2 separate regions of the Homo sapiens genome follow, and region 2 is linked to region 1. A link means that fine-mapping ties the variant in region 1 to the expression of a gene that starts in the linked region. Tissue or cell type: unexposed skin. Region 1 holds a variant in brackets; the other region holds the start of a gene. All regions are shown on one strand. Distances are between the middles of the regions.

Region 1 (2,805 bases):
AGGTATTTTATTCTCTTTGTAGCAATTGTGAATAGGAGTTCACTCATGATTTGGCTCTCTGTTTGTCTGTTATTGGTGTATAGCAATGCTTGTGATTTTTGCACATGGATTTTGTATCCTGAGACTTTGCTGAAGTTGCTTATCAGCTTAAGGAGATTCGGGGCTGAGACAATGGGGTTTTCTAAATAAACAATCATGTCATCTGCAAACAGGGACAATTTGACTTCCTCATTTCCTAATTGAATATCCTTTATTTCTTTCTCTTGCCTGATTGCCCTGGCCAGAACTTCCAACACTATGCTGAATAGGAGTGGTGAGAGAAGGCATCTTTGTCTTGTGCCAGTTTTCAAAGGGAATGCTTCCAGATTTTGCCCAATCAGTATGAAATTGGCTGTGGGTTTGTCATGAATAGCTCTTATTATTTTGAGATATATTGTATGAATACCTAACTTATTGAGAGTTTTTAGCATGAAGGGCTGTTGAATTTTGTCAAAGGCCTTTTCTGCACCTATTGAGATAATCATGTGGTTTTTGTCTTTGGTCCTGTTTATGGATTACCTTTATTGATTTGTGTATGTCGAACCAGCCTTGCATCCTAGGGATGAACCTGATTTGATCATGGTGGATAAGCTTTTTGATGTGCTGCTGGATTCGGTTTGGTAGTATTTTACTGAGGAATCTCACATCAATGTTCATCAGGGATATTGGTCTAAAGTTCTCTTTTTTTATTGTGTCTCTACCAGCCTTTGGTATCAGGATGATGTTGGCCTCATAAAATGAGTTAGAAGGGTTTCCCTCTTTTGCTATTGATTGGAATAGTTTCAGAAGGAATCGTACCAGCTCCTCTTTGTACCTCTGGTAGAATTCGGCTGTGAATCTGTCTGGTCCTGGACTTTTTTCGGTGGCAGGCTATTAATTATTGCCTCAATTTCAGAGCCTGTTATTGGTCTATTCAGAGATTCACCCTCTTCCTGGTTTAGTCTTGGGAGGGTGTATGTGTCCAGGAATTTATCCATTTCTTCTAGATTTTCTAGTTTATTTGAGTAGAGGTGTTTATAGTACTCTCTCATGGTAGATTGTATTTCTGTGGGATCGGTGGTGATATCCCCTTTATCATTTATTATTGCGTTTATTTGATTCTTCTCTCTTTTCTTCTTTATTAGTCTTGCTAGCAGTCTATCAATTGTGTTGATCTTTTCAAAAAACCAGCTCCTGGATTCATTGATTTTTTGAAGGGTTTTTGGTGTCTCTATCTCTTTCAGTTCTGCTCTGATCTTAGTTATTTCTTGCCTTCTGTTAGCTTTTGAATTTGTTTGCTCTTTCTTCCAGTTATTTTAATTGTGATGTAAGGGTGTCAATTTTAGATCTTTCCTGCTTTCTCTTGTAGGCATTTAGTGCTATAAA[A/T]CTCCCTCTACACACTGCTTTAAATGTGTCCAGAGATTCTGGTACTTTGTGTCTTTGTTGTCATTGGTTTCAAAGAATATCTTTACTTCTGCCTTCATTTTGTTATTTACCCAGTAGTCATTCAGGAGCAGGTTGTTCAGTTTCCATGTAGTTGTGTGGTTTTGAGTGGGTTTCTTAATCCTGAGTTCTAATTTGATTGCACTGTGGTCTGAGAGACAGTTTGTTGTTCTTTCTGTTCTTTTACACTTGCTGAGGAGTGCTTTACTTCCAACTATGTGGTCAATTTTAGAATAAGTGTGATGTGGTGTTGAGAAGAATGTATATTCTGTTGATTTGGGGTGGAGAGTTCTGTAGATGTCTATTAGGTCTGCTTGGTGCAGAGCTGAGTTCAATTCCTGGATATCCTTGTTAACCTTCTGTCTCTTTGATCTGTCTAATATTGACAGTGGAATATTAAAGTCTCTCATTATTATTATGTGTGTGTCTAAGAGCCTTTGTAGGTCTCTAAGGACTTGCTTTACTAATCTGGGTGCTCCTGTGTTGAGTGCATAGATATTTAGGATAGTTAGCTCTTCTTGTTGAACTGATCCCTTTATCATTATGTAATGTCCTTCTTTGTCTCTTTTGATATTTGTTGGTTTAAAGTCTGTTTTATCAGAGACTAGGATTGCAACCCCTGCTTTTCTTTGCTTTCCATTTGCTTGGTAGATCTTCCTCCATCCCTTTATTTTGAGCCTATGTGCGTCTTTGCACATGAGATGGGTCTCCTGAATGCATCGCACTGATGAGTCTTGACTTTTCATCCAATTTGTCAGTCTGTGTCTTTTAACTGGGGCATGTAGTCAATTTACATGTAAAGTTAATATTATTATGTGTGAATTTGAACCTGTCATTATGATGTTCACTTGTTATTTTGCCCATTAATTGATGCAGTTTCTTCATAGCATCAATAGTCTTTACAATTTGGCATGTTTTTGCATTGACTGGGACCTATTGTTTCTTTCCATGTTTAGTGCTTCCTTCAGAAGCTCTTGTAAGGCAGGCCTGGTGGTGACAAAATCTCTCAGCATTTGCTTGTCTGCAAAGGATTTTACTTTTCCTTTACTTATGATGCTTAGTTTGGCTGGATATGAGATTCTGGGTTGAAAATTCTTTTCTTTAAGAATGTTGAATATTGGCCTCCACTCTCTTATGGTTTGTAGGATTTCTGCCAAGAGATCTGCTGTTAGTCTGATGGGCTTCCCTTTGTGGGTAACTCGACCTTTCTCTCTGGCTGCCCTTAACACTTTTTCCTTCATTTCAACCTTAGTGAATCTGACAAGTATGTGTCTTGGGGTTGATCTTCTCAAGGAGTATCTTTGTGGTGTTCTCTGTATTTCCTGAATTTGAATGTTGGCCTGC
Region 2 (2,805 bases), 7.6 kb after region 1:
TATTATTGTTAATCTTCAAGTTACCTTAGAATCTGGAGCCTCCATCCAATTGACTTCAATCTTTGGATTTTAAGACATGTAAATGTGTTTCCATATAACTATAAAGCACTCTGAATTTGATGGATTTCTATCTTTTATTTTCATTTCATAGGACTAAAAAACTCTTACAAATATCAAAGTGACATCTGATTGAATTCTTGATATCTCTCAAGTCTTTGGTTTTGCAATCTAAAGTAATTCTACATCTAACGTTGCTCTATTGTTCATCCTCAATAGCAGATGACCTTGCACCTTTCCATTATATTTCTACACTCTTGGTGCTATTGAAAGCGAGCTACTTTATATTCTCTGTTTTATAGCTTCTGCTTTCTCATATCTTCTGCTTACTAATGGTTTTCTCTGTCTCGTGGGAATTTTGCATGCATTTTCTCGTCATATCCTTTTGCTACTAACCAGCTATATCTTTGTTTACAATCCCAAGACAAGTTATAAAAGAGACTTCTTTGTCCAGTCATTCCCATTTGGACAGAGCTATCATGCAAGGCCACCTCATAGCCTCCTAGCTGGTGACTTGTGAAATTGGTTCCCTGAAGATTGTTTCTCTTGGGATAGGTGCACACCTCTGGCTCATTCAGTGGCAGCCAGAGTAGATAAGTGGAGTCACATGACAGAGCATATGGAAATCTGCACAAGAAGCTAAATAGGACTCTTCGTTCAGAAGGTGTCAGTGGTAATGACGGATACCTGTATTGGTCTTTCCATACGAGAGTTGAATAAAACAGACAAAAAAAAATTTTAATTTTAGAACTATAAGAAAAAATAGGTGGATATTTATGTAATTTCATTGTAGGAAAAGTTTTTAAAGCATAAATACAAAGGGAAAAATCCTAAGGAAATTTATTAATATATACATTAAAAATGAATTAACTTTATATGTTAAAATATTATAAGGTTAAAAAGAAACTTACTAGGTGTAGTAGCATGTGCATATAGTCCTAGCTATTTGGGAGGCTGAGGCAAGAAGATTTCTTGAGCCAAGGAGTTCCAGTCCATGCAAGGCAACATAGTGAGATCCTGTCTCAACTGAAAAAATATATATATATATAATAGCAACTACTTGGATAAATGTATTTGCAACATATTGACAGGTATTTAAATTATTGCTATGTTAAGAAGAACTTGATTTTAAAAACAAGATGAACACCCCGATAAAATAATTGGCACAGATGTTGAATGGAGAATCTGCAAAAAGACGAAGAAGAAGGAAGGAAGGAAAGAAGGAAGGAAGGAAGGAAGGAAGGAAGGGAGGAAGGAAGGAAGGAAGGAAGGAAGGATCAACTTTGCCAATAATCAGAGAGATAAAAACCAATTTAACAATGTTTTGGCAGACATAGCTTATGCTTCTCAGGTTAGGGGTATTACTACGGTAGAAAATGCATTCTCCAGAGTTTTTGGAGGGTCATACAAGAATACATATGAAAGCCTTAAAACTATGCCCACAAAAATACTTTAACTTCTAGGAATTAATCCTAAATCTTAAGTAAACAATTAAGAATAGAGATGCACCATTTACATACATGGCTTTTCATAATAGTATTATGTATTATGGGTATATACCCAGTAATGGGATGGCTGGGTCAAATGGTATTTCTAGTTCTAGATCCTTGAGGAATTGCCACACTGTCTTCCACAATGGTTGAACTACTTTACAGTCCCACCAACAGTGTAAAAGTGTTCCTGTTTCTCCACATCCTCTCCAGCACCTGTTGTTTCCTGACTTTTTAATAATCGCCATTCTAACTGGTGTGAGATGGTATCTCATTGTGGTTTTGATTTGCATTTCTCTGATGGCCAGTGATGATGAGCATTTTTTCATGTGTCTGTTGGCTGCATAAATGTCTTCTTTTGAGAAGTGTCTGTTTATATCCTTCGCCTACTTTGTGATGGGATTTTTTTTTCTTACAAATTTGTTTGAGTTCTTTGTAGATTCAGGATATTAGCCCTTTGTCAGATGAGTAGATTGCAAAAATTTTCTCCCATTCTGTAGGTTGCCTGTTCATTCTGATGGTAGTTTCTTTTGCTGTACAGAAGCTCTTTAGTTTAATTAGATCCTATTTGTCAATTTTGGCTTTTGTTACCATTGCTTTTGGTGTTTTAGACATGAAGTCCTTGCCCATGCCTACATCCTGAATGGTATTGCCTAGGTTTTCTTCTAGGATTTTTATGGTTTTAGGTCTAACATTTAAGTCTTTAATCCATCTTGAATTAATTTTTGTCTAAGGTGTAAGGAAGGGATCCAGTTTCAGCTTTCTACATATGACTAGCCAGTTTTCCCAGCACCATTTATTAAATAGGGAATCGTTTCCCCATTTCTTGTTTTTGTCAGGTTTGTCAAAGATCAGATGGTTGTAGATGTGTGATATTATTTCTGAGGGCTCTGTTCTGTTCCATTGGTCTGTATCTCTGTTTTGGTACCAGCACCATGCTGTTTTGGTTACTGTAGACTTGTAGTATAGTTTGAAGTCAGGTAGTATGATGCCTCCAGTTTTGTTCTTTTGGCTTAAGATTGTCTTGGTGATGTGGGCCCTTTTTGGTTCCATATGAACTTCAAAGTAGTTTTTTCCAATTCTGTGAAGAAAGTCATTGGTAGCTTGATGGGGATGGCATTGAATCTATAAATTACCTTGGGCAGTATGGCCATCTTCATGATATTGATTCTTCCTATCCATGAGCATGGAATGTTCTTCCATTTGTTTGTGTCCTCTTTTATTTCGTTGAGCAGTGGTTCGTAGCTCCCCTTGAAGA

Evidence for each region.
Region 2: it holds the start of LINC02562, and the variant in region 1 is fine-mapped to the expression of LINC02562 in unexposed skin (GTEx, PIP above 0.99). The same link has a PIP of 0.9 or more in esophagus mucosa, lung, minor salivary gland and sun-exposed skin.

What each region holds. Positions count from the first base shown.
Region 1 is chr4:75,075,973-75,078,777 of GRCh38, forward strand. No RefSeq gene overlaps it. Among named protein-coding and RNA genes, the nearest start is that of LINC02562, 7.3 kb to the right of the region's middle. The variant A/T (reference allele first, on the strand shown) is at 1,405.
Region 2 is chr4:75,083,621-75,086,425 of GRCh38, forward strand. It overlaps LINC02562 (long intergenic non-protein coding RNA 2562), which reads right to left and starts at 1,088. Exons shown (of 2, transcript NR_149051.1): 1 at 969-1,088.